Linked DNA regions of Homo sapiens: region 2 is linked to region 1. The links come from fine-mapping of genetic effects on gene expression. A gene starts in region 1. The other region holds a variant in brackets. All regions are shown on one strand. Distances are from middle to middle.

The links. PIP is the estimated chance that this variant, and not a neighbour inherited with it, causes the effect.
Region 2: its variant is the best candidate, but not a certain one, in a credible set for the expression of RTF2 in lung (TOPMed, PIP 0.79).

The regions. Positions count from the first base shown.
Region 1 is chr20:56,466,221-56,470,613 of GRCh38, reverse strand. RTF2 (replication termination factor 2) reads right to left here and starts at 1,987. Exons shown (of 9, transcript NM_016407.5): 1 at 1,848-1,987. The coding sequence starts at 1,916.
Region 2 is chr20:56,516,453-56,520,845 of GRCh38, reverse strand. RTF2 (replication termination factor 2) reads right to left here. Exons shown (of 9, transcript NM_016407.5): 7 at 3,857-3,911; 8 at 3,645-3,740; 9 at 1,397-2,759. The coding sequence ends at 2,581. It also overlaps the pseudogene GCNT7. Among named protein-coding and RNA genes, the nearest start is that of FAM209A, 6.1 kb to the left of the region's middle. The variant T/C (reference allele first, on the strand shown) is at 2,001.

The sequences.
Region 1 (4,393 bases):
CCACCAATAATTGCCTTATTAGAACAAAAGATGATCCCGTCACCCAGGAAATTACAAGGAATTTAGGTGCTCTGCGTTAGGAACCAGGGCAGATTTCACAATATTGATCCGAAATGTAAGCTCCACCAGGGCTAGACTCTGCCTTGTTCACTGCTATATCCCTGGGGCCTACAACAATGTATATATGGTAACCACTTATTAAGCATTTGTTGTGTGAATAGTTATAATAAAAATCCATCCTGCCTAGGCATTCTGGCTTTTTTGAATCGCTCTTCCTTCTTTTCTACCCTCTTCCGACACCTGTTTCTTGTCAAGCCTTTCATTAAGCTACTCCTTTTCAGCCCTGGGCACAAGAAAACAAAACTGAGCTAAACACTTTTTTGGTGAAAGCCAAAAAACCACTCATGAATGCTAATTATCCAGCATTCGCCTGTTTACATGTACGTATGATCAGAGGGTACACTTCATCCTCTTGGGTATTCATTCATTCCCATATTCACACATACTTATTAGGTGTCTATTATGTGGCTGACACATGGTAGGGGTTACAGAGGTAAGACACACAAGGTTCCTGTCTACGTGGGAAAGAGACAATAAACAACACAGTGGTAGGCACTGTTAAGAAGAGAAGAGAGAATATTGGAAGTGAGGCACATTTCAGTTACAGTGGACAGATGACATTTGAGTAAAAAACTGAATGAAGTAAAGAAACTCATCATGTGACAATCTCAGTGAAGAGTATTTCAGATTGATGAACTCACACTCCAGGTTGAAGAACAAGAGGCCTGTTTAGCTAGAACAGTATGAAAGAGGTGGAGAGGGGCAGAAGATGAGGTCAGAAACATAGGCAAGGTCTGCTCAAGGGTCTGACGAGATTTTATTCTTAATGTGATGGGAAGCCACTGGAATGCTTCAAATACAATAGTGACTTAAGGGGTTTACCTTTTAAACAAGCTCTCCAGCTCCTGAATCAGAATACATGAAGTCTCCACGTGTGCTTTACAAATATTTTTGTAAAGAAGTCTCTACTAGGTGCTTTACAAATATTTTATCATTAAAAAGTAATTACTTGTGCTAACTTTGAAATCCCAAATAAGTGGATGGGAATCCTGGCTTCACTACCTACCAGCTGTGTGATCTTAGTCACCTTAATATCCCTGGACTCAATGTCCCCGTCAGTAGCAAAGAAATTATTATAATTTCCTCGATTACTTGTGAGATCAGGGATTATTCACTCATTTGTTTATTCGAAATATTTAGTGTGCCAGGAACCATGCTAGTTGCAGAGAAAAAAAGGGTACAGCCTCTGCTATCAGGAACTTACCGTCTAGCGGGGAAGACTTGATACAAATCAACCACGTACAGCCGTGTGCAGGCTAAGACAGTTTATAAAAGGATGTGGTAAGGGAACAGTTTGGGAAGGCTTCTCTGAGCAAATGAAGTTAGTGTATACAAAACTCAGTATACACTAGGTATTTGTATTATTGCTACTAGTCGCAGGTAGGGTTCAAATCCTGGCTCTGCCATTTACTAGCTTTGCAAATTTCTCCTTTTGAGCCTCAACTTCCATGTCTGAAAATGAGGACAACAGTATGTAGCTATAGGGCTATTGTGATAATTACATGAGATACCCCCTGTTAAGATTACTGTCCAGTGAATGGCAATAGTCAGCACCCATTGAATGTCCACTCTTAATACTGTTGTTAATTTTGAGTCCTCTGAATGGAATAAAAGACCGCAGCCAGGTCTGGAACTCCGCTGGCTCCCCCTTCTTACTTCCTCTCGTTTTCTGGGGTCGTCAAATTCCCACCACCCCCGGTCGCCAAGAGCCGGCCCACATCACTGACCTTCTCAACCTTCTTCGGCCCCTTCACCAGTTCATGCCTCTTGGGGATTGTTCCCCCGTCGCAACCCATCGCAGGACGGGAGTCAGAGCCAGCAGCAAACCCCCAAAGCTGTCACTTCCGGGATTTCCGGCGAAATCCGCAGCCACTTCCGGCGCACCGCCGTGACGCAGCACGCTGGTCGTGGCGTAGCGGGGCGGGGCGGGGCGGCACGCTAGGCGCGGCGTAGCGGGGCAGGGCGAGGCCGTTACCAAGTGCCGGTTGTCATGGAGAGCGTCGCTTGGAGGCTGGGCGTGGGCGGGTTTCCTCGTTCCCGTGAGACCCTGGGTTTCTGCTGCACAATCGGAATCACTCGCCCACGCTCCGGGAGGGCAGCGAGGGCGTGGGCGGCCCGTGCGCATCCACCGCTCTTTGACCCTATCCCACGCCAGCTTGTGTGGCTGCGGAGCGGGCACATCCCTGGACTGAGAGCGCCTTGAGGAAAAGGGCCGCCCTCCTGTTTCTGCGATTAAGGATGCCTATGAACGGAATCTGCTGTATCAATGGACATTTTTGTGTTTAAAAGGAGAACGCATCTTTCTTGAGCGCCAACTGTGACTCAAGCACTCACAACAAATCTTGTGAAGTGATGTTACAACAGATTCTAGGAAGTAAGACCCTCCCTTAAGGCCTGGAACTTTCTGGTGTTGCCATGCATATTGTAGATGGCATGTGTGTGAAATTTTGCATACAGTTTGTGCGTGTGTGTATTTCATTCACAGTTTCCTGAAGCCCAGGCTAAAAAAATTTTATTAACAATCAAGTATCATTAATAGACGATATAATAGTTCTTATAAAATATACACTGATGTTGCCATGCCCGTTCCAAGAGTCAGGCTGTATTTTATCTATAAGAACACAAATCCCTTGCTAAAAATTCATGATTGTCTGTCTGCTCTTAGGCGATTGTCTATCTCTCTGTTTGTTCCTTTAATTATTATAAATATTATGGGAAAGTGCCTATAATCCCAGCACTTTGGGAGGCCGAGACGGGAGGAGCACCTGAGCCCAGGAGTTCCAGGTCAGCCTGGACAACATGGTGAGACACCATCTTGAAAGAAAAAGAAAAATTAGCCAGGCGTTGTGGTAAGCTTTTGTAGTCCTAGCGGCTCCGGAGGCTGAGGGGGTAGGAAGGATTGCCTGAGCCCAGGAATTCAAGGTTGCAGTGAGCTTATGATTATGCCACTGCACTCCAGCCTAGGCAACAGAGCAAGACTCTGTCATTAATATGTATGTATGTATGTATGTATGTATTTGTACATATATATGATGGGAAAATTTCTCCATTGCCAAGAAGGCAGATCTTTATGATTGGATATTACCCTATTGACCTACGTGAAACATAAAAACGCTGAAAATATTTTTTACTTGGGAAGAGTTGCCCAGAAAATACGTGGATGTGGAAACTTCAAGGGCTATATGTAAGCTTGGGGTACTTGTTACTGTGATTAATGAGAATTTTAAAAAATAATCCCTTTAATTAGTTGGTCTCTGATTGATTTATGATTTATTTCTATGCTAACCACAATAACTGTAAGCTCTATGAGGGTAGGGACTTCATTTTGTTTTGTTTTGTTTTAGACAGAGTCTCGATCTGTTGCCCAGACTGGAGTGCAGTGATGTGATCTCGGCTCACTGCAACCTCAACCTCCCAGGATCAAAGCGATTCTCCTGCTTCAGCCTCCCCAGTCGCTGAGATTACAGGCGCCCGCCACCATGCTGGGCTAATTTTTGTATTTTTAGTAGAGACGGGGCTTCACCGTGATGGCCAGGCTGGTCTCAAACTCCTGATCTCAGGTGATCCACCTGCCTCGGCCTCCCAAAGTGCTGGGATTACAGCCGTGAGCCACCAAGCCCGGCCAGGACTTTTATTCCACATTGTATCATCAGTGCCTAGAAGAGTCTTTGGCACACTCAATATATGAGTACATTTCCTCAGTAAACCAAAAGAAAGTACAGATTCATTGAGAAAGGGGTGAAAAGCCTAGTTTTGGCAGATACTAAAACTGGTTAGTACTATTAGAATTCCATTTACTGGTGAGGAAACAGAAGCGTGGAAAGATCAAATGACTCCTTCAAGGTCACATAGGCAGTGAGAGACCCGGGAATGAGTGCTAGGATTAGTTCTTTCTCACAGCAAAGGAAAGAAAGTCAAATACAGAAGAGCAGAAACACCAGCATCTTTAGAAAGACTCAAACCAGTGTTCTTTTCTCATTTGGGGAAGAAAAAACAAAAATAGCGGCTCTTTATTAAGCCATGACCATGCGTGCACTGAGAGATTTGTAGGCATTTTTTCACTTTGGGCTCACAATAACCTTAAGAGTTAGAAGGTATAATCCCTCTTGTTTTACAAATGAAAACCCCAAGACTCAGATGTGCAAGTTGTCTTTGTTCAGAGTCTCATAGCTGCTGAGTAAAAGGAGTATAAGATGAGGGGCTGTCTCCGATGAGGCCCGTCTGACTTAACTGCTTCCCCAAATGCTGCTGATAAAACCCAGCAGTACCGGCT
Region 2 (4,393 bases), 50 kb before region 1:
TGCTGGTTTTGCGGCTCGGGAGCAACACAGAACCTGCTGACGTGATGTCACCCCCAGAGACCCAGCTGTAAAATTTCTCTCTTTTGTACTCTTTCTCAGACCGGCCGATGCTTAGGGAAAAGAGAAAAGAACCTACATTGAAATATTGGGGGCTGGTTCCTCCGATACTGTGGGAAATTGAATAGATGCTATTTTGGAGAATTTCAACATCTTTTCAATTTTCTCCTCCCAGCTCCCTCCTTGGTGGAAAGCAGCTTGGGTCCTGGAGGTGGACGGAGGAGGAGGGAGAGCTAGGAGATGCCCCACTTTCCTCTTGGGCACAGCACCTGAACCCGTGGTCTCGGCGCCTGGGTGGGAGCCTGCCCCAGCCGCCACTGATTCCTTCATTTGGTACGGACTGAATGGGGAGAAGGTGCGGTGTGGCCAGGCAGAACTGTCATTCGCCTTGCTGCTTTGGGCCTCAGGCACCTCACCTATAAAGTGGGGGATGGCCATCTTCCCATTGCACTGGGTGGCTGGGGAGTCCCAGGGGAAGAAGCCTGTCAAGTGCTTGGCTGCTCAGTGAGCCCTAAAAATAATGCGAATGATCAGCCCTCCCCAGCCGTTGGTGTATTGAGGCCTCATGCCCAGCAGGAGCACAGATCATGGATACCTTCTTCCCTCAAGCTGGCCAGGAGCCTTGAAGAGTGGTGCCTTAGCAAAATATTAAAGGCTGGCTAGAAATCTCCAAGGAAACCCTGATCCCTCCTGCATGGATGGTCCTGAGGGCAGCTGGAGGGAGGCCCACAGCCTGTTTATTTCAGAGAGGCCCAAAGCAGAGGACTTTGAGATGCTGTAATTTTTGTGTTGAGGATGCTGTGACTCAGTTACCAGAAAAAACTGGACACAGTCAATACATTCAATGCAAAATAAAACTGATTCAGGCTAACATTCAGAAAACCGAACCTGGTAAAAATAATGGTCATTAAAAGAAAAGGGGGCCCAGGCAGCGTGGCTCACGCCTGTAATCCCAGCACTTTGGAAGGCCGAGGCGGGCAGATTGCTTGGTCCCAGAAGTTTAAGACCAGCCTGTGCAACATGGCGAAACCTCATCTCTACAAAAAATAGCAAAATTAGCCGGGTGCGGTAGTGCGCACCTATAATCCCAGCTACTCGGGAGGCTGAGGGGGGTGGATCACCTGAGCCCAGGAGGTCAAGGCTATGGTGAGCCATGATCATGCCACTGCACTCCAGCCTGGATGACAGAGTGAGACCCTGTTTCAAAATTTAAAAAAAAAAAAAAAAAAAAAGGGGGAAATAAAAACAATGAGAAAATGGTTGAGTTTGGCTGTATAGAAAATTGGGGAAATTAAATGGCTAATCCAGGTTTGTTCTGGAAAAGTCCATGACAAAAACGCATCACTTAATTTTTATTAAAATGCTCTATACTCACAATGTCAAAATATCCTTGGGGCCAAACCTTCCCATCAACTGTGAAGCCGGGAACCACACAGGGTTTGAGAAAAAGCAGGGCCACACATGGTTCTCCCTTGCTGGCCTCTCCCTGGAGTTCTGCCCACGTGTCTGTGTCTCCCACAGAACCTGCCTGTTCACCTCCCACCATTCACCTCCCACAGCTCCTTCTGCTTCTGAAGGAAACCCAGGGCCCCGGGGTCTGTATAGAGAACCAGTCACTATCTCAGTCATACCACCGTGTGCAGAAAGCCACGCAGAGGCCTGTGGCTCTTGGTTCTTCATTAGGAGTCTCATGAGAAGTTTCACTAGCTATTGACGTCAACACAACTTATAGGCAGATAAAATGCACCTCTTTTTGGGTACGATTCTCCCTTTACCATCTGCTGGAGGAGAGAAGGGTGGGTTCTTCTGACTTCATGGAATGACTCCTGTAATCACCAATGCAACGGCTGCAATGTTCTTACCCAAGCATGAGCAGAAGGTAGAAAAGATAAAAACACAGAGGAGAGAAGAGGCAGACCAGCTTTATTTTTGAACCCAATCAC[T/C]GGGTGCCCAACTATGACTCTGCTATCTTCGAAATGATGAGATGGGGCACACTCCCCTAACAGTATTTAGCTAGACCAACAAGGATCCTGGCTCCTCCCAGGGCTGTAGCAGAGGGACGAGGCCCTTCGAAGCTTCTAGTGGGCACAGTGTATTTGAAATCCATCCTTTTTAAAGCCCAGTTTCACTTGGCCTACTTGATTTATTGCTGGTAGCAAGATCATTAGAATTTTAGTTAATTAATATGTGCCAACTCTGCACCGGTGAGGACTCTGGAGTCTCTTGTTACTGCAAGCATAAAAAGTGCAGCCCACAGGGCTTCCTGGCCATGGAAAGGACCAAATGCACCTGCAGGTGGAAGCAAGCATGACCTCGGGCCACTGTGCAGCCCCTCCCATGTCCCCCCTGGAACCGACACGCCTCACATCAAGAGTGGCCACACCAGCTTGAAGGCTGGCCAGGACAGCTTTATGACACAGAACTATAGAGAGAACACACAGCAGCGCACTCAGAGGCACAAAGCGACCTGCCTACGTGGAAACTAAACAACCTTCTGGGGCAGGAGCGGTGGCAGTGCGGGCTTCAGAAGCAGTAGGACGTGTGGGTGACCCAGTGGGCAGACTCCTCCTTGGAGCGCTTGGCGGAGCTGTGAGTGGTAAAGAGGGACTTGTAGGCCTCCGATTCTTCACTGTCAGCGATGGACCTCTTTGTGGCTCCACACGGAGGCTTCCCAGCTTTTCCAGAAGAGCTCTCATTCATTGCTAGAAAAATGAAGAGCCAAAACTGTCAGGGTTGGGATAAAGATGATTCTAAACTTCGCATCCTCAGAAGGGAAGCCCATCAGTCACTCTGTCCCAGACGTTCTCTTGCTGGCTGTGTGAGTGCTGGCGGACGTCATCTTAATTGCCAACTCCAGCAAAGCAGACACAGCACAACACATCTATCATTTACTGTCTTGCTCTGTCGCAGACACTGGTCCCAGCCCCGTGAATGACTTAGATTGTCCTGATGAGGCAGGGCCTGCGTTCCAGGGGAGGAAATGGGCACAGGAACCTGAGTGGCTGTCCCATGTAGAGCCGGGATGGGAGCCTGTCAGCCACCCTGGATGCTACTTAGAGCACAAGATCACACACTCTTAACAATGAATCTGTATTTTTCTTTTTGTGAAATAAATGGTATTTTCTTTGAGTTACAGAGAGTGAGTTTTAGGAGAAACTGATCCTTGGTCAAGAGGCAGCAGAGAGGGGACTCTGAGAGCCACACGTGGAGCCCATGAAAGCCCCAAGAGTAAAGAAACTGGGGGCATTCCCCGCAGGCCCTGAGCCACAGTCCATCTGACAGTCTCTGTGCAACATCTGAGCCAGTTCTCAGCGCAACCTCTTTTGCTTGGCACCAAGCACTTACTCGACAGGAATCTAAACAACCAGCATTTGTGCCCAGACCCCATCACTCCTGCCACGGCTCCTGATGAGGGTGTGTTCAATATTTCTTAGTTACCCCCCTAAAGAGAGTTCAGTGCACTCTCTAGAGACATGACATAGGACAGGCTTGGGCTTCCCATCCACCCACTCCAGTGAAACCTGGACTCGGCCACCTGGGTTTCCAGCCTTCTCGAAACAGCTCCCTGTAGCTACAACAGGACCCACCTGTGCTTTTGGGAGCCAAGTTGGTTTTCTTCTCTCTAGAATCAAGGCTGGCTTCTTCAGGCTTCCCTGTCTTAACTTTTGATGGCCCTGGGGCTTCTGTAAAAGAAACAAAGTAGGCAAAGCAAAAACAATGCAAAACAAAGCATGAACATATTAGCAGACTGCCCTAGAGTCGCATTTTGCTAAAATAAGGATCTCTTGAAGGATCTTACCTTCACTGACATCTGGTTTTGAAACAGACTCTGCTGCCTTGGGTTTCTTTGTTTTCTACAAAAAGATAGAGAATGTTGGAGGCTGTGCTCAGATTCACTCCACTTCAGCGTCAGTGTGGCTGCCCATTGTCCCGGGTGCCCTGTCTGACTGACCGATGCTAGTCACATGAGACAGACAGTCACTCTGAAGAAGGCTTTTGATGTTCCGTAACTCCTAAAGCCTTCACCCTCTGCATGTGACACCAGTCATGCACTTCTGCCTCACACAAAAATGTATCTGCACAGAGCTGCTCACTTTTATATTTACATCTCCCAAATCACATTTGCAAAAATTTAAATGAGGCTGACAGATTTCAGTAATAAGGGCCAATGTTGATGGTGACAACTGTATACAAAAGCGCACTTAAATGAGTAACACAGAGTATATATGGGTATGTGAAGTCCAGCCAGCATAAACACCAACTAAATCTTGCACATTCCACTAACTTTTTTTCAAAGCTGTCAAACTGCTTTGGTATTTGTTATTCAAGTGTAAGG